2 linked regions of the Homo sapiens genome follow. The protein of the gene in region 2 interacts with the protein of the main gene of each other region in a biochemical or structural test. Each region holds a gene or a part of one and is shown on either strand. Other genes may lie near its edges. The genes, in order: BCL3 and N4BP2.

What was found.
Region 1: the proteins of N4BP2 (region 2) and BCL3 form a complex in vitro, tested with the Homo sapiens proteins (one study listed by BioGRID).

Annotation. Positions count from the first base shown.
Region 1 is NC_000019.10:44,743,006-44,753,260, forward strand, and holds the start of BCL3 (B-cell lymphoma 3 protein), read left to right. Parts: upstream 1-5,702; 5' UTR 5,703-5,785; coding exon 5,786-6,041; intron 6,042-8,221; coding exon 8,222-8,375; intron 8,376-10,255. UniProt on the Homo sapiens protein: Contributes to the regulation of transcriptional activation of NF-kappa-B target genes. In the cytoplasm, inhibits the nuclear translocation of the NF-kappa-B p50 subunit.
Region 2 is NC_000004.12:40,149,288-40,159,713, reverse strand, and holds the end of N4BP2 (NEDD4-binding protein 2), read right to left. Parts: intron 6,935-10,426; coding exon 6,811-6,934; intron 5,523-6,810; coding exon 5,477-5,522; 3' UTR 1,462-5,476; downstream 1-1,461. UniProt on the Homo sapiens protein: Has 5'-polynucleotide kinase and nicking endonuclease activity. May play a role in DNA repair or recombination.

The sequences.
Region 1 (10,255 bases), on a different chromosome or scaffold from region 2:
AGTTCACTTCTCTGTGCCTGTTTCCTCCTCTATAAAATTGGGTTTTTAGCTGAATTTTCCTTACAAGGTGTTAAGAGGATTAAGTGGGCCAATTCTTAGTTGCAACTCAGCCCGGAGTGAATGTTTCTGTCTTGTCTCCTCTGTGAGTAGAAAAGGGTGAGAAGGAGGCCCTGGTCTGCTGGATAGGGTAAGGGTTAAGGCCAGCAGCGTGGAGACAGAAATGAACATTATTCATTCATTTATTCCACACACTTTTCTTATTTAATCTGCTCAGTAAGCCTGTGAAACAGGATCTGTTATCATCCTGTTATTATTATTATTACCATTATTTTGAGACAGAGTCTCACTCTGTCACCCAGGCTGGAGTTCAGTGGCATGATCATAGCTCACTGCAGCCTTACACCTAAAGCAATCCTCCCACCTTACCCTCCCAAGTAGCTAGGACTACAGGTGCCTCCTGAGCCCAGCTAATTTTTAAAAATTTTGTGTAAGCCTGGTGTGGTGGCTCACACCTGTAATCCCAGCACTTTGGGAGGCCGAGGCAGGCGGATCACAAAGCCAGGAGTTCGAGACCAGTCCAGCCAATATGGTGAAACCTCGTCTCTACTAAAAATACAAAAATTAGCTGGGCATGGTGGCACGGGCCTGTAGTCCCAGCTACTCAGGAAGCTAAGGCAGAAGAATCGCTTGAACCCAGGAGGTGGAGGTTGCAGTGAGCCGAGATTGCGCCATTGCACTCCAGCTGGGTCAACAAGACGGAAACTCTGTCTCAAAAAAAAAAAAATCTGTAGAGACAGGGTGTCCCCTTGTTGCCCAGACTGGTCTTGAACTCCTGGTTTCAAGGGATTCTTCCTTCTACCTTGGCCTCCCAAAGTGCTGGGACTACAGGAGCACACTCCATGCCCGGCCCCATTCGCCACTATTAAAGTCACAAGGGGCTGGGCATGGTGGTTTATACCTGTAATCTCAGCATTTTGGGAGGCCAAGGCAGGTGGATCACTTGAGGTCAGGAGGTTGAGAACAGCTTGGCCAACATGGTGAAACCCAGTCTCCACTAAACATACAAAAATTAGCCGGGCATGGTGGCGGACGCCTGTAATCCCAGCTACTTGGGAAGCTGAGGCAGGAGAATTGCTTGAACCAGGGATTGGAGATTGCAGTGAGCCGAGATCATGGCACTGCACTCCAGCCTGAGCGACAGAGCGAGACTCCATCTCAAAAAATAAAAATTAAAAAATAATAAAGTCACAAGGAAGGCACAGAGAGGGAAAGCCACCTGCCTAAGGTCACATAACTAGCACATGGACGAGCCAGGGCTCAAAACTATGTCTCTAAGCCCAGCATGTTGAATTCTATTTTCCCCAATGAAGCAGGTCCTGCTATTGAAAACACAGGATATTTGATGAGGACAATAATAATATATAATGTTATATTATTATTATTATTATTATTATTATTATTATTATTATAAAACTAATAGCAGCTAAATTGCATCAAGAGCCTTCTATACATCAGACCCCATGGGACAGAGTCATATTTTCTTGATGTGATCCACTCTACAGATGAGGAAGCTGAGGCTCCACGAGGTTAAGTAACTGCCCGGAAGTCACAAAGCTAACGATCAGGAGACAGGACTTGGACCCAGGCCTCAATTCAAAACAAAGTAGGACAAGGAAGCCAGATGCGGTGGCTCACGCCTGTAATCCCAGCACTTTGGGAGACCGAGGAGGGAGGTTCGCTTGAGCCCAGGAGTTCGAGAACACCCTGGGCAACACAGTGAGACCCCCTGAGTCTACAAATTGTTTTTTTTATTAGCCAGTCATTGCGGCACATGCCTGTAGTCCCACCTACTTGGGAGGTTGAGGCAGGAGGATCATTTGAGTCCAGGAGTTCAAGGCTACAGTGAGCTATGATCTCACCACTGCACTTCAGCCTGGGAGACAGAGCCAGATCTTGTCTCAAAAAAAAAGCAGGACAAGACCCAGTAATTGAGCCAGATGGGAACTTAGGCCCTGACCAGCCCTACTCTCTCCTCTTAGAAAGGGAAATTGAGGCCCCTGAGAGCAAGAAAGCTGCCTCAAGCCTACAGACTTCCAGATGGAATTTCGTTTCCCTCTCAGGACTTTGAGCAGGTAAATTCCTGGCCTTTCCTCCCCCAGGATGGGTTGGGGAAAAAGAAACAGCAGCTGGGGAGGAGATCTGAACAGGTACAAAGGGCGGCCTGCATGAGGGGAAAGTGGTTAGACACCAAGCAGAACTTCCTGGCCTCCTCTGGGAAGTTTCTAAGACTCATCCAGGGGCTGCCCCTGCGGGTGGGGGCCCTCCAGAGGCCAAGGCCCAGAGAAAGGAGACCCTAGTCCTTTCCGCCTGGGGTGCAAGGAGCCGGGGGAGGGTGGGGGTGGCCATCCTGGTTCCGCATCCTCCGTTCCCGACATTGGAGGGAGGCTGCTGTGGGAGCTGGGACTTTCCTGAGAGCAGAAGATTCTGGGAAATTAGAGACAGCTGCAGGGCGGGGCTGCCTCCCAGCCTCCCTTCCCTTCCCTCCCCTTGGTCCCTGCTGGCTCCGGAGGCACGCCTCTCCACCCCTCCACCCCACCAGCTCCTCCTCCCCTAGTCCATGCCTTCCACCCTCGGACCCTCAGATCTTTTCCCCTGAGCCTCTTTCTTCTCCCTCAGATCTGGCCTCTACCCTCAGACTCTCTCCAAATCTTCTTTCCTCAGACCCTTCTTTCCCCTCCAACTCTCTCCTCCTCCCTCAGAGCTGCGTCCCCTCACTTAGTGCTTCTCAGACTTCCTCAGACTGTGCCCTCTCCCTCAGATACTCTCCCCTCCCCTCAGACCCTCACCTCCTCACTCAGACCCTCACTTCCTCCTTCAGACCCTCACCTCCTCCCTCAGACCCTTACCTCCTCCTTCAAACCCTCACCTATTCTCTCAAACCCTCACCTCCTTCCTCAGATGCTTATCTCCTCCTTCAGACCCTCACCTCCTCCCTCAGACCCCCACCTCCTCCTTCAGAGCCTCACCTCCTCTCAGACCCTCACCTCCTCCCTCCAAACCTCACCTCCACCTTCAGACCCTTACCTCCTCCTTTAGACCCTCACCTCCTCTCTCAAACCCTCACCTCCTTCCTCACATGCTTATCTCCTCCTTCAGACTCTCACCTCCTCCCTCAGACCCCCACCTCCTTCAGACCCTCGTCTCCTCTCTCAGACCCTCACCTCCTCCCTTAGCCCCTCATCTCCTCCCCCCGAACCTCACCTCCACCTTCAGACCCTCACCTCCTCCTTCAGACCCTCACCTCCTCTCTCAAACCCTCGCCTCCTTCCTCAGACTCTTATCTCCTCCTTCAGACCCTTGTCTCCTCCCTCAGACCTTCACCTCCTCCCTCCAAACCTCGCCTCCACCCTCAGACCCTTATTTCCTCCATCAGACCCTTACCTCCTCCAACAGACCCTGTCCTCCTCCTTCAGATCCTCTCCCCCTCCTCCCACTAAACCATCTACTTCTCTCTCAGACCTATCTTCCTTCTTCAGATCCTCCTCCTTCTGACCCTTTTATCCCTCTTCCAACCTCAGAGAACCATCAGCACCCTCTCTTCCAGCAGCACCGTCTCTCCCAGCCCTTCGAAGCTCCCACCGGACCCATCACATCTTCTCCCCTCTACAGTCCTGCTAGGTTGGAACCACTGCACCAGCTGCCCTGGGATGCCAGGAGTGGGACAGGCTTGGGTGTCCTTCCCACCCTACCTCTGAGGGTCCCCACCCTAAGCCTCGCCCCTCCAAACCTCAGCTTTCCTTTCTGTGCATTGGGATAGTGCTCCACACCCCTCTCCTGTGTCTGAGGGTCCCCAGGGGTGGGGTTGGATGGGCAGGGAACACAGCCCCCAGCCTGTCCAACCGAATTCCTCCCCTCTTCCCTTGCTGTGGCCCCCACAACACCAGCAGGCAGGGGTTGCCATTGGTCCCATTTTCCAGAAGAACAAACTGAGTCTCAAGGCAGGGGATGGCTTGTCTGAGGTCCCACCGGGAGCAAGGGGTGGAGGTGGAATTAACACAGGTCTGTGCTCGGGATGTTTCGCCATGAAGGGGGATAAGGGAGATCCAGAGAGAGGTCGAAAGGAAGGGAAGGGGTGAGGCCTCTCCACACAGCCACTTCTCACATCCTGGGTTAACGATCCACTCGGGTGGGGCCCGAGTCCGGCCAAAGTCCCTTCCCGGGGCCCCAATACCCACTTTCAAGGTCCCAGGGGACACAGAGACAGCAACAGAGATGGGGAGACAGAGACAGAGGGCGGGGCAGGAGACAACCAGAGGGAGGTCAGGCAAGTTTCGAAGACAGAAGGAGACCGGGGGAGAGAACCAGAGAGACGCCGCGTGCCCCCTGGGCAAGTCCGGGGTGCAGCCCCCATGCCCCGCCCCCTGTGTCCCCAAAGCCTCCCTCTCCGCCTCCTGTGACTCAGTGACCCGGACTCAACCCCAGCGGCTGCCCCGCCCCCAGGGAAATCCGGGAAAGCCCCGGACCTTCGGGGCCCCACCCCGGGGCGGGGAGAGGGAGAGGAGGGGAGGAGACGGGGAAGAGTCCCGCCTCCCTCCTCCCTCCCTCCCATCTCCAGCCTGAGTCATGCCCCCAACCCGCCTAGCCTGTTCCCCACCCATCAACCCCTCCTCGAGGTGGGAGGGGAAGTCGGGGGGAAGCCAAACTGCTCCCCGCTCCTGCAGCACCGGCCTCGGTCGCGCTGACTCTGGCCTGGTGTCCGTGTCTCTTGCTATCTCTCTTTCTCTCAAGATCTCTGCGCCTGTCTCCATGTCTCTTTCTCTCTGTGCACCTAGGATTTTCCGAGCACCCACCCCGGTGCCCCGCGGGCCCCGGCTGGGGGCAGGGCCCCCAACGAGTGCAGAGACACAATCAGTGGAGCGCTCCCCACCCTCACCCCACCCCCAGCCCCTTTAGACCCACAGCTGATGAGGCACGTGGAGTGGCAGAGATGGAAGAGGGGAGGGAGAGGAATCGTTCCTGGCCGCCTGCCGAGTGCCAGTCCCTGCCCCGGGTGCGTCTCTTCACTCCCACTAAGGAGGAAACGGCTCAGAGAGGGGAAGTGTTTGGCCAAGGTCACCCAGCGAGTAAGTGGGAACCGAGATTCCAAACCCCGTCCCAGAGATGCCAAGGCCTCCTGAGAGACAGAGAAGCAGACAGCAACTGAGAGGCAGAGAGATGGTGACAGACACAAAGAGACAAAAGAGAGAGACAGAGACGGAACAGAGCACACAGAGACAAACGCGGGGTTGCGGAGAGAAACACCTACTCAGACAGGAGAACCAGAGAGACAGTTACAGACTCAGAGATAGAGATGTTGAGAGATAGGGCCAGAAAGACAAAAACAGAGGCAGAGAGAGCGGCCCTTGGCAGCAGGGGTGGGGACACCCCCCCACCCCCCGACCCCGCCTCCTCTCCCCCCACCCCTCCTTTCCTCTCCCTCCCCCGCCGAGGCCTGGCTGCCCCAGGCGCCGCGGGCCGGGAGGGGGCAAGCGGGGCGCGGCGCGGGCGGGGCGCAGGGCAGGCTGCACCTCAGAGCGGCGGGAGCAGCGGCGGGTCCAGGAAACCCCTGGGGCGTACGGGTGGCCCCGGGGGGGCCGGGGGCGGGGAGGCGGGCGGCCGGCACCGCCCCGGCCGACAAAAGTCCCTTCAGTTCAGCCGGCTGCAGGGGAAGTCCCGGCGCCCGGCGAAACCACCCTCCCGTGCAGCCGAGCCCAGCCGCTCTCCGGCCGCCGTCCCCGGCGGCCCCATGCCCCGATGCCCCGCGGGGGCCATGGACGAGGGGCCCGTGGACCTGCGCACCCGGCCCAAGGCCGCCGGACTCCCGGGCGCCGCGCTGCCGCTCCGCAAGCGCCCGCTGCGCGCGCCCTCCCCGGAGCCCGCCGCTCCCCGCGGCGCTGCGGGCCTTGTCGTCCCCCTGGACCCTCTGCGCGGCGGCTGCGACCTGCCGGCGGTCCCCGGGCCCCCCCACGGCCTGGCCCGGCCGGAGGCGCTTTACTACCCCGGTGAGTGGCCCCCGAGGGTCCGGGCCGGGTGGGATCCACACAGAGCATAGGGTCACCAGAGCCAGGAGGCAGAGCTTGAGGCACAAACCGGTGTCTCTCCAGGGACCTGGGGGACAAGAGGATATAAGCCCAGGTTCCAAGGATATAGATATGAGATCATCGGGGAGCCAGTAAGCTGTGCCTTGGGATCTGGGGATTTGGGGACCCTGGGGGGCAAAGCCCAGGGGCTGAGTGACGTGGGGGGGGGGGGGCCAGGGACAATGCCCAGTGGTACAAATATGGGGGTGTCAGGGAATCAGGGCACAGAGCCTGGTATCCTAGGGGCAAGAAAGTACAAGCTCTTAAGCCAGATGTGTAGCGTTATGAGGAAGCTGAGCTGGGCTGGAGAAACTGGGGTTCCCTGTATCCTGATATTATTAGAATCAAAGGGAGTCAGGGTAACAGAGACTGGGGTTCTAAGGAGACAGATACTGAGGATCTCAGGATGTCACAATCTCAGGAACCAAGATATCTGGAGACATGGGCATTATGAAAACAGAGATGGGGTTCTGAGCACCCCAATATCTGGGATCACAAGGATCCAAGGAAATGAACCAGAGCTCCAGGGACCCAGATACCAGGGGGTCTTGAGGACCCAGGAGAACAGAGACCCGGGTTTCTGGGTACTCAGTTATGTGGGGCCACAAGTGATCAGGGTCCTATTTGAGGTCAAGATCAGGTGGGCAGAAGGGATCAGGGGACTGAGGATCCTAAGATTGGGTAATTCTGAGACTTTGGGTAATTTAGAGGCAGGATGAAAATTTCAGGGGTCTCCAGACAGAAAGCCTCAAGGCCTCAAGGCCTGGTATTGGAGATACGAGGACCTGGAAACTTGGGAGTTCAAGAACAGAGGGCCCACAAGGATCAGCAGATGACGAAGACCACACACTCTTCTCTCCATCCTATCTCCATCCCTGATCTCAAGAAGGGGTGTCCTCTACCACAGCTGTGGCCACGTCACCATCCCCAATTGACCCCCAAAGCTGCAGAGAGCCGTTCTACAGAGCCCCAAAACTTTAGGTAGTTTCTGCACCCTCCACCCCATCAGCGTGACAGCTGGAGAGCCTCAAGCTATGTGCATCAGGAGTTCTGCCACGGCCTCCCAGCTTTCCTATTCCAAGAGTGAGAAAGCAGGCCTCAGTTTTCCCCGTCTGTGTGATGGGTTGGTATGGATTTGCCTGCTGCCATGGTCCCCTCGCCTTTGTTTGTTTTTGTTTTTGTTTTTTGAGACAGAGTTTTGTTTTGCTCTGTCGCCCAGGCTGGAGTGCATTGGCGTGATCTCGGCTCACTGCAACCTCCGCCTCCCAAGTTCAGGGGATTCTTGTGCCTCAGCCTCCCGAGTAGCTGGGATTACAGGCATGCACCACCACACCTGGCTAATTTTTGTATTTTTAGTAGAGACAGGGTTTCACCATGTTGCCCAGACTGGTATTGAACTCCTGACCTCAGGTGATCCGCCCGCCTCGGCCTCCCAAAGTATTGGTATTAGAGGCATGAGCCACAGCGCCCGGCCTGCCGTGGCCCCTTTTTAAACAGTTTGATCTAAAATTACCCATGCGTGGTGGTCAGCATCTGTAATCCCAGCTACCTGGGAGGTTGAGGCAGGAGAATCGCTTGAACCTGGGAGGCAGAGGTTGCAGTGGGGCAAGATCGTGCCACTGCACTCCAGTCTGGGCAACAGAGCGAGACTACATCTCAAAAACAATTTGAACAGGCTTCTGGTAACACCTCCTCTCTGCCTCCACTCTCCCCAAACCCACTCTACATTTATCCCACACCCTGCACCCAGCAATTCATCAGCCACAAAATCACTCTGCAGACAGTCCCTGGGGTCCCCTGCTAGGTGATGATGGGTGCACCCTCTGTTCTTAAGGGACCCTTTGTCTGATTGGAGATTGAGGTCAGAAGATAAGTGACAATGAGGGTGACCAGCCCTAGAGGGAGAGGAAGCTGCCAGAGCCCAGAGGAGGGACGTGGAAGGGGGTTTGTTTTAGGCCCTGAGGACCCTGTATGGGATGCAAAAGGGACCCAGGAGAAAGGGCAGGTGACACCACAGGAGCAAAGTTTTAGAAGTGGGGGGCGGGTTGAGGGTCTGTGGGTGTGGCCTCACCCATGTCCCTTCTCTGTCCTCCATTGTCCAGGAGCCTTACTGCCTTTGTACCCCACTCGGGCCATGGGCTCCCCGTTTCCTCTGGTGAACCTGCCTACACCCCTATACCCCATGATGTGCCCCATGGAACACCCCCTTTCTGCTGACATCGCCATGGCCACCCGTGCAGATGAGGACGGAGACACGTGAGTGACAGTCCCCTATTAAGGGGAGGGGTGGTTGGGAAGACCAGCCGTCCATAACACAGGGCCACTCAGCTCCCAGTGGACCTGAGTCAGAACTCGGTCTCCACCACAGGCTGTGTGACCTTGAGTAAGGCCCTTCCCTGCTCTGAGCCTCAGTTTCCTCCTCTGAAGAATGGGCACCTTGAGAGCATTTACCTCCTAGGCCACTATTTTTGTTTGGTTTTTGTTTTTGTTTTTTTGAGACAGGGTCTCACTCTGTCGCCCAGGCTGGAGTGCAGTGGCACGATCTCAGCTCACTGCAACCTCTGCCCCCCAAGTTCAAGTGAGTCTCATGCCACAGCCTCCCGAGTAGCTGAGACTACAGGTGCCCACTGCCAAGCCTGGCTAATTTTTGTATTTTTTGGTAGAGACAGGGTTTCACCATGTTGGCCAGGTTGGTCTCAAACTCCTGACCTCAAGTGATCCACTCGCCTTGGCCTCCCAAAGTGCTGGGATTACAGGCATGAGCCCCAAGCCCACCCCTAGAACACTATTTTTGGAACGGTGGTCTTTAGATATTTTGTCACAACCTAAAAACAAGAAAGACAGTTCATTGATTAACTTACTATATGAATTATACATGTAAAACTATCACTGGACCTGGCATAAATGTTGAGTAAGTGTTTGTTAATATTACTATTATTTTATCTCAAACCCAGCACACACACACACACACACACACACACACACAAACTTGAAATTAAAATTGCACAAAATGAAACAATACTCGCCCTTACTATGTGGGTTCTACTGTGACATTTTCTTTTTTTCTTTTTTTCTTTTTCTTTTTTTTTTTTCTGAGACAGGGTCTCGATCTGTCACCCAGGCTGGAGTGCAGTGGTGCAATCATAGCTCACTGCAGCCTTGATCTCTTGGGCTCAAATGATCCTCCCACCTCAGCCTCCTGAGTAGCTGGGACCACAGACGCTACCCCCACACCTGGCTAATTTTTGTATTTTTTTTTTGTAGAAACACAGCAGTCTTGCTATGTTGCCCAGACTGGTCTCAAACTCCTGGGCTTAAGTGATCCTCCCACCTCAGCCTCCCAAAGTGCTGAGATTACAGATGTGAGCCACCGAGCCCAGCTTACAGCTTTACTTTGCCATTTTCTATTCTAGTCGACTTCATTGTTTCATGGTCACAGCCCACTACATTAATTTGAAGATCCCCTAAATTGATTTCACAACCCCCATGGTTTATCACCTGCAGTCTGAAGAACATGTTTGTGAGGCTGCTGAGAAGTCCTGCACGGGAGGGTTTGGTCTGTGCCTAGCACATAGTAAGCACTCACTGCAATTGATCATCATGATTCTTATTATTCTATTGACCTGGGTTGGAATCTCAGCGTGGCCACGTTCTACTCCCTCTGTGCCTCAGTTTCCCTCTCTGTAAAAACAGGAACCATCGCGTGTGAGGGTCTCTGGGAGGAAGAAATGACATGATTTATACAAAGCACTTCTGTGAGAATTAGTTTGGGGCCTGGAAACCACAGGTAGAGATGAACAGGCCTGTTTCTGCAGAGAAGTAGCAGAGGGCTGCTCCGCCACTGGCCCACTGAGTGATTTCATGTCCCTGAGTCTCAGTTTCCCTATTTGGAAACTGGGTCTCATAATAGCACCTATCACAATTAGGATTCAGTGAGATCTTGTACACATGTATTAATACAGTGCACAGAACAGGGCTGGGCAAACAGTAAGTGCTCAATGCATGGAAATGGGTAATGTTTGAGCAGAGCTCCCAGGGTGGTTGCAGGCCATCTCCAGAGCCCTAGCAGGAGAAAGTGGCCTAGATTATAAAGAGCTAATAAAACCTAGTTCCCTCCCCTTCTGGGTACCTCTGGG
Region 2 (10,426 bases):
TCAGCAGAACATGGCAGTCTGAAATAGAAAATTTCCCAGCCTCCCTCGCAGCTAGATATGACATGACTAGGTTCTGGTCAATAGGACGTAAGTAGAAGTGTCCTACGGCAGGTTCCAAAAACCATCTTTAAGACCACTTGGCACTTGCCTTTTGCTCCCTTTTTCTTTGTCTTTCCTCCAGCAGAATACAGATGTGACAGTTAGAGATGTAGCCACCCACCCTGGCCTAGGAAAATGAGGGCCATTATCTTGGGTATGGCAGAATGATGAACTTTCCTAGATTCCCAAAAGCGTCAAGTAAAGCAGTCCTGGAATTTTTATCCCTGGGATTTTATAGGAAGAAAGAAATAAACTTTTACCTTTTGCCATTAGTATTTTGGGTTTTTCCAAAGTACCAGCTTTCGTATAAAGGAAGAAGGCAGAATCATAAATGGTAGGTTTTCAAAGACATATACTGTGGAGCCACAACTCTCTGGAGAGAACAGTAGACTATTATCTCTTTATAAGTAACTATTCTCTCTTAGGACAAATGCAGCTGCTCCATATTAGGAGTCAGAGAATGTGGTTCAAGTTATACCTCTGACATTAAACAGCAAACCAGTTAACTTCTCTAAGTCTATGTGGCTTTATTCATTAAATTGGGATAGCACTACCTATGTAATAAAATTCTCTTGAGATTTAAAATATAACATATACGAGAGTATCCCATAGTATAAGTCACTATATACATAGGAGTTGATAAGAATAATTATAATTCTGGATAAAAGCTCTATCGCATTTACCCTGTAACCCCAGTAACGAGTGCTCTAAATATTTGTTAGATAAATGTTTTTAAGTCCTTGCAAAATGAGTGAATTCTGCTTTGGACTCGAATATAAAGTTCCAAGGTCATTAATATTATTTAAAGCATTACTTGAGTCTCTAAGAGATTCTTTTTTTTTTTGAGATGGTCTCACTCTGTTGCCCAGGCTGGAGCTCAGTGGCACAATCTCGCCTCATCGCAACCTCCACCTCCCAGGCTCAAGCAGTTCTCATGCCTGGGATTACAGGTGTATGCCACCATGCCTGGCTAATTTTTTGTAGAGACAGAGTTTCACCATGTTGGCCAGGCTGGTCTCAAACTCCTGACCTCAAGCAACCTGCCCGTCTCAGCCTCCTAAAGTGCTGGGATTACAAGCATAAGCCACCGCGTCTGGCCTCTAAGAGATATAATTCTTAATTTTGATATCAGTTAAAAGATACAGGGTGTGAGGAGAGAAACCATAGCCAATCCATTTATCTGGTTCAAAAGTAGACTCTTATTTGCTACAGAAAACGTAAACCAGAAGAAAAGTTTTGGTACAGAAATAAAATTTTCATGACACTTTCCCCCTGAAATTACAAAGTTAGACATGAAAATATTTTAAAATATTTAACCCACTAACTCTAATACATCAAATGAAGGATTTCCTCACACTGGACTGTGGCTAAAGTATTTTATTAAATTAAGTATGTAATTTGCAAATGGCTTCATAAGAAAATTTAAAAGCAAATTTATAAAACATTTTCAATTTAAAAAGTACAGAGTTAACAGCAAAATTACATTTTCTATACAGTACAAATAAAAACATTTTTCTGATATACTGTCTGAAAATTTTATAATATATTCTCCAACTGATAGCTGCAATATTGTATTTTAATGAGAAGCCTCACAGTTAACTCAATCATTTATTAATAATAAGTTCATCATTGGACCATAAAAGTCAATTGCTCAACTTTAAGGAAAATAATGAACTTTGTCATCATATAATATGAAGTTATAAACGGCTCTTCAGGATGTAGATGTGTTCTAGCCTTGTTTCTCTATTAAATTCTGTAAAGAAGCATTAAGTAATACTGTAAACTTGAATTACATTTTAAAAATAAGCACCATGAACATACATTCTACATAAACTTATTTTACCTTTTAAATGACACCTTTTGGCCACATAAACATTTAAATCTGTTTTCTTTACATGTAAATAAAAATTGAGCAATATTTAACTACTACACCGAAAAATTACCAAACTTCACCTCATTGCACAATGGAAAAGCACTTAGAAAAAGCACTTGGAAAAAACAGCACACGTTATTTTTGTCTTTTTTATACATTTCGTCATTTTCTTAAATTGAGAGCAGTTAAAACATTGTCAGAGCAATTTCCTGAGTTTCCAAAGTTTCCAATTTCCAGCTCAGAAATAACCGATCTCAATATTATACATGTCTACTTTCTAAGCATACAAAACACTTGAATTCAAAAAGAAAAGACCTAAATAAAGGATGGAAACCATCCAGAAGAGCAGTATAGCTTTTCTTCTCAAAATATACTACTCAAGAGGATTTAAAGTCAAAATTTCTGCTATATAATATGTCCTATATTTAAAGGCCATAAAGTTGCAAATAGTATGGAAATACTAACCAATTGAAGAAACTGCACATTAAAAATAATGTAGAGAAATATGAAGAGCCAATAAACGTAAAAAAAAAAACACTTCCATTTCTCACATTGGAATAAAGAGATGGACAGACTGAAAATACTGTTAAGTGTCTAATATCTCCCTGGTCCAACTGGACACCCTCTGGGGTTTCCACATTAGTCCTCTTTTTCCATCTGGGAGATAATGGTAAGAGACTACTGAATGAATATAATTATTACTGAAACCTTCCATACTACAGAAGTGCTGTACTTTTAAAATATTAAGTTTACAAAGAATCATTCTAATGAGTCATGTATTAGCACAAATATACAGGTTGAGTGAGTATCCCCTACTCAAAATGCTTAGGACCAGAAGTGTTTTGGATTGCTGGGGTTTGGGGGGATATTTTAGAACATGTGCATTATATTTACTTGTTGAGTATCGCTAACCTACAAATGTAAAATGCTCTGTGAGTATTTCCTTTGAGCATCATGTCTGTGCTCGAAAAATTTCAGATTTTGAAGCATTTCAGATTTTGAATTTTCTCATTAGGGATACTCAACCTACACCAATACATGAAAATTTTTATAATCTCCAAACTATCTTTGACATACAGGATTTAGAAATGGGTAATAGAGAAAACTTTTAAAATCCCCAAACTATCTTTACTGCGGGCATACAGGATTTAGAAATGGGCAAAAAAAAGAAAGGAGGGATTACAAACTTTTCTTTCAAAATTATGTGTTGCTTAAACTATGCTAGATAGTGGGGTGGGAGGCAATTTGGAATTAAGCAGCTTCATAAAAATACATATGATGCTCAAACTTTGCCTGTATATTTATCAACAATGATTAAGATATACTATTTGATTTATCAAAATAAGGCATAATATTAACATTGATATAGTAAACAAGTAAACAATATAGCTTTTTTCATTTGACTTCTGCCCACGGAATACCACACCTCTACTTCTGACTGCTCCTTCATTAATCATAATTATAATATTGAAATAAGTCTAGCTGAAGTGCCGAAAAGTGATGATTTTTAAAACTAGGTAAGGAAATATAAAAACACAGAAAGTGAGTATGCAGCTGCACACATTCCAATTAACTCCACATTTTAGCACTGTTTTTCATACCCTTAAATCATACTAATGTATACATAGGAATATCTTATTTCATTAACAATTATAGTTTCATAGTAAGTTGTTTAAAGGAACTGCTTTATTTTTAATGTTTATTTTTAATGTATAGAACTGTTCTAGAGATTACAAAAGTGTGCTAAACTGTTGGCATTCTTTAAATAAATTATTACAAACATAAGTGTGAATAATACTTCAATACCAGTCACTAACCATTTCTAAATAATAAACATGTATTTTCATTTTTATGGAACTAAAATTCAATGATAAGCCTCCTTATTTTAAAAGCATGCAATCATGATATATAAAAAAAATGTTTTGGGGTTTTATTTTCATTGAAATGTCTGCTCTTTTGGAAAACCATTCTGTACTTTAGGATTCTTTTGGTACCAGCTCAATCCTATAATTTCTGATCCAAATTTTTTTTTAAGCTTAACAAAAAGCAACAAAACTATTTGTTAAAATTATGTATGTTGAAAATATTCTCCATCTCCAAAGGCAAATTTAAGCCATTGTCTCATATTGGAAAATTATACCTTACCACATTATAACCTCCTTTACACAGGTTTAACTTGCATACTAACAGAATTTATTAGCTAACCAAACAACAGAAGTTAATGACAGCTTCCTTTGAGAAAGTTGGCTCTTTTTCAAAATAAAAGTGAAAATATTTTAAATTGTAAGGATTCTTCTTATGATTATAACCAAAATATTTTCTCTTTTTTTTCTTTTTTTTTTTTGGAGACGGAGTCTTGCTCTGTCACCCAGGCTGAGTGCAGTGGTGTGATCTCGATCTCGGGTCACTGCAACCTCCACCTCCCAGGTTTAAGCGGTTCTCCTGCCTCAGCCTCCCAAGTAGCTGGGATTACAGGCACACGCCACCACACCCAGCTAATTTTTGTATTTTTAATAGAGACGGGGATTCACCATGTTGGCCAGGCTGGTCTTGAACTTCTGACCTCAGGCGATCCACCTACCTCGGCCTCCCAAAGTGCTGGGATTACAGGCGTGGGCCACCACACCAGGCCAATTATAAACAAAATATTTTCTATATTTGTTTAATAGAATTTTAACCTACTGCAGTTTTAAAATTACATGCCTCAAAAATAAAATATAAGTATTTAGTACTGTCTGAAATACGACTTATACAGACAGTTCTAGAAGCATTTCGATAAGGCAGCAACATCTGGAAGATATTTAACCATTTCTTTTTCTCTGAAAACCTTTCTGTCTATAGAAAGTATAAAATTACAATATAATCTCAGACCCAACTTTCTTTCCATAAAATGCACACAGAAGAACAGAACAAAAGGTAAAAGATCAAGGTCATATACAAAGCAGAAGAAAGGGCAAAAGCATGTCTTCCTTCCTGTAGGATATGGCAAAATAAAAGCATTTTATGTGTTTAGTTTTGAAAATAAAAAATATTCAAGTGTTTTTGTTAGATCTCCTTTTTTTCTTTACTACCACTACTATGTCCTTTTTCCTCTTTTAATACCACCCTTTGGGGGGCATGAATCAGGTCTCAAAGCACTTTAAATACCTCTCACAAAAGACTTTTAGGACATTACTAAATGTCATACAACAATTAATACAAAGGTAACCTTTTCTGAGAAACAATCAGAGCATTTTAAACTTTAAAACTGTAGCTGATAATTTTCTTACATATTTTGTAATCAATAAAATTTCTCTGTAATATCTTTAACAGGTAACATTTGCATTTGATTCAGTAAAAAATCAAACCTCACTTGCATTTTGAAAAACATCATAATTTTTTTGTTTCATAATTGAATATTATTTATAATAAAACACATCTTTAGGGTAGAATTGACTGAATTACTGCAAATAAAAGTAATTTTAACCTACAAACCTTCATACTTCTAATTCAAGGATGTTTATTTTACTTTAGCATGACTTTCAAGCACCCTGGTTTAATTTCAGAGAACCTGCAGAAATGAGAAAAGAGTTATTTTAAAGATGAAAATTTCAAATTAGCTAAGGAATATACCTTGTAATCAATTCCAAGTACCTACGCTTAATATAATATTTACTACCAAAGTATTGACCCTTATTAAGTCAATATCCAAGACCAACATCTAGGTTTGTGTTCCTTTTATCTACGGTCAAAACAAATACAATCTTAAAGCTGGAGGTTGCTCTTGACTTAGTATAACTTAAGATTTGTCAAAACCTGTGAGGCCTGAATTTTACCTTTATGAAAAAGAGTATGCTGTAGGAAGAATAAAGTCCTTGGTGCATCATGAAAGCACCAAGAAGAAATCTCTGATATATCAGGTAAGTCTGATTAATCTGGCCATGCAATGCTTTCAACTCTATCCGGAGAGAATTTAAAGGAAGACTAGTCTCTAAAATAGATAATTAATCTCAACATAATGTTCTGGTCTAACTACTCCTTTTATAAAAATAACCCTGATGTCACCTGTTTTATGCTCATAACTTATGCTATCATTTTCGATAATGTAGCCAAATAACATCTTATTACATGGCATAAAATAAATATGCTACACTGAAATTGGTGGGTAGGAGTTAATGATACACATCTGCAGGAAATCTATCCATCAACAGATATTTCATCTTTGACTTTCTTGTCATTTTCTGTTATTAAATAATTATCACTTAATGAAAAAGAACATTTCATGTTTGTCAACACAGGTCATTAATGGCATTTAACTTATGAAAACACAAATAAATTCATATTAACTGAACATTTCTGCTAAAGTTTAAACGTACCTAAATTATAACTATATTTCAATAGAAGCCACCCAATTCCATCCAAAATCCACAAATACTGATTTCCTTTCAAAAGAATAATAGCAAATCTTAAAGTATGATACATATTACCTAATTATTTTGCATATTATCAAAGAAACAAATATATTTACTTTCTTTTAGAACTTTAAATTTATGATAGAAAGTTTTATCAGATGATTATTGGCAACAAACACATTTTTCCTTATTTCTGGTTTACCAGACAACATAAATCCAGCAGGGAAAGTTATATCATAATTTAAGCATGAATCTGTGGCTGAAATCAGATGATTAAATTTAGTTAACTATTTTAACAGATTGTTCTGAGTACGCTATTAGTGTTTATTTACCTAGCTATATTAGGGCTATTGCTATTATCAATAACAGAAATCTATACTCACAGAAATATCTGATAAAGATCTATATGGGCAGTTGCCATTATTAATAACAGAAATCTACACTCACCTGAAGCTATGGCTTATGAGGTACTTAATGACAGCTGGTTTGATGCGAGCAACTCCTCCCTGGCTGTGGTTTCCTCTCCCCGTAATCACAGACAAATAGGGCTTCCCACCGTTCTGCTTAAATTCTGTTACAACAGAAATCAGGGGAGTTAAAATTCATTTATCTTACATTCTCAATAGAAAACGTAAACCTTAGCTACTCAAGCACATGAAATTGTTTTCATGAGGATTTTGGGGTTTGCCATCTCAAAACTGTAATAGTAAGACAGATTTGCTATCTCAAAAAGCCCCCAAATTAATGTTTTAAGATGTATGTTTTAAAACACATAGCCTCATTGTAATCTATCCATCAAAAGATTTGGTGGGACTTCTTCCTTTATGGGGGAAGAGATTTCTGTGCACTACCAGAAGTTCTCCCTGAAATAATGATAATGGCAATAATACCATTAATGATACCTAACAATTACTATACAAAAGGAGTCAAGTACTGCTTTAAGTGGCTTATATTTATTAACTAAGAATCTTCACAACAACCCTGTTAATTAAATATTCTAAAGCCATCAAGCTTTGTTCTGAATCATAGCTCTGCCACTAAATGACTGTGTGACCATGGACAAGTTACTTAGCTTCTTTTGTGCCTATTTTCTCATCAGGAAAAAGGGATAATGATAGCAACTAGTTTATAGATTATCTTCCAGTAATAGCTATTAGCAAATCCACTAGTCACAGCTGGATTGCAGTCTTACTATTAAAGATAATCAATTGTTAACAAACTTTTCCTGATAGATAGTTCTTAAAACATCAAAGGAGTCTGAGCCTCCTAAAATACTGAAGTTCCATTTTGGAAATGACCTTGTGAAAATCAAGGATATAAATCCTGAAAACTAATAAAAGCTGTAGCAGAATAACAAAAACAACAAAAAAACTATTAATGAGATGAATTAATAAATTTAAAACACACAAAATATAAACATTCCACGGTCTGCTTATTAAATTGTCCTAATACTCCTAATAGAATACAAACAAATGGTTTTTCAAGTATCATATCTCCAAGATGATATTCAGCCTGGAATTTTAAAAGAATATGTTGCTCTTGCATTTCTAATTCCTTGTCTATGATCTCCATCTCTAATCCACATCCATTACTTCAAGCAATATGTTGCTCAAAATTCAACTGAGTGCTAGCTTCACAAAGGTATTCACAGTGCACAAAATTCTAGGTATATAGTGTAAAACCTTTTTACGAACTTTTTACAAAGTTTTTGCACTATATACCTATAATTTTGGGCACTGTTCTTTACATATGTTATATTACGCATAAAAGTTTTACATTGGCCAGGGACAGTGGCTCATGCCTGTAATCTCAGCACTTTGGGAGGCTAAGGAAGGTGGACCACTTGAGCTCAGGAGTTCAAGACCAGCCTGGGCAACACGGCAAAACCCCATCTCTACTGAAAATACAAAAATTAGCAGGGCATGGCGAGGCGCACCTGTAGTCCCAGCTACTTGGGAAGCTGAGGTAGGAGGATGGGTTGCACCTGGGAGGTGGAGGGTGCAGTGAACCAAGGTCACAACCAACTGCCAGCCTGGGCAACAGAGCCAGACTCCCATCTCAAAAAGAAAAAGTTTACTTACAAAAAAAGCCCAACTAAATCTCTAATCATAACTCACACTCTTCACTATGGCTCCCCTTATCACTTAGGTCAGTCATTTATACGATTATCACCTGCTAATAGTTCACTTATTGCTCTGAAAATATTCTCTAGTTGATTCACATGCCTCAAGTAAGAGTTCAAAGGATGTTTGTTGCATGAAGTAATGTATATGTTTCGTTTCCCAAATACAGGCTGTTCTTGCTGTTTAACGCCTTAGAAAGGACTGTTTAACTCATTTTTCAGCACACTCCAGATACTTCAACTGCAAATATTTCAGTACATACCTCATAAAAGATAAGGACTCCTTTAAAAAGCATAACTACAATGGCACCATCATATCTTATAAAATTAATAAAAGTCCCTTAATATCATTAGTTTCCAAAATTTCCCCCAATTATCTCAAAAATATGTTTTTACAGTAATTTGTTGGCATCAAGATTGAAATAAGTCTATACATTCTATTTGATTGATATATTTCTTAAGTAACAAGGTTTCCCCTCCCCTGGTGTTTTTCTTTACAATTTATTGAAAAAAATTGGATCATTTATCCTAGACTTCCTCTTTTTTTTTTTTCCCCCTGAGACAGAGTCTCACTCTGTTGCCCAGGTTGAAGTGCAGTGGGATGATCTCGGTTCACTGCAGCCTCTGACTCCTGGGTTCAAGCGATTCTTCTGCCTCAGTTTCCAGAGTGGCTGGGATTACAGGCCTGAGACATCATGCCCAGCTAATATTTTTGTATATTATTAGTGGAGACGTGGTTTCACCATGTTGGCCAGGCTGGTCTCAAACTCCTGACCTCAAGTGATCTGACTGCCTCGGCCTTCCAAAGTGCTGGAATTACAGGCATGAGCCATCACACCCAGCCTATCCTAGATTTTCACAATCTGAATTTTGCTGACTGTATCCCCATGGTGTTGTTTAACATGTTCCTCTGTCCCCTGTAAATCCCTATAAAATGGTAGTCAGTTCTAAAGGTTTGATCTGCTCCTAGTTTGATTTGGAGGCAAAAATGATTCGTACGTAGCAGTGTATATTTCAACCAGAAGGGACATAAGGTCCAGATGTCTCTCTTTTTTAAAAAATTCATCTCCGATTTTAACACTCCTTAATCTTATGTCAAAAGGCAATGCAGGTCAGAGCCACAAATCTTCCACTGGATTCATTTCTATTCAACAATACTGCCACCTGGTGGTGACTGACAGTAACTACAGACTACCACAGGTGGCAGCATGCACTAGAGATGGGCCTTGGCTTCCAGAAAAGATCTGCATCTTGGATCTTGACCAAGTATTACCTTGGGCAAATTACTTAGCTCTTTTTTCTTTTCTTTCTTTTTTTTTTTTTTTTCTTTTTGAGATGGAGTCTCGCTCTGTCACCCAGGCTGGAGTGCAGTGGCTCGATCTCGGCTCATTGCAAGCTTCGCCTCCCTGGTTCACACCATTCTCCTGCCTCAGCCTCCCAAGTAGCTGGGACTACAGGTGCCCGCCACCATGCCCAGCTAATTTTTTTTTGTATTTTTAGTAGAGACGGGGTTTCACTGTGTTAGCCAGGATGGTCTTGATCTCCTGACCTCGTGATCCGCCAGCCTCGGCCTCCCAAAGTGCTGGGATTACAGGCATGAGCCACTGAGCCTGGCCTCTTTTTCTCTTCTTACAATTTTTTTAATTGAGATAAAATTAACATAAAACTAACCATTTTAAAATATGCAATTAAGCGGTTTTTAGCATATTCATCATGTTGTGCAACCACCACCACTAATTCCAGAACATTCCATCATTTCACAAAGAAATTCTGTGCCTCATAGCAGTCACTGCTCATATTCTTGCCATTCCAGTCCCAGCAACCACTAATCAAATTTTTGTCTCTCTAGATTTACATACTCAGAACATTTGGTAAAAATGAAATCATACAACATATGGCTTTTTATCTGCCTTCATCTTTCACAAAGAATAATGTTTACAA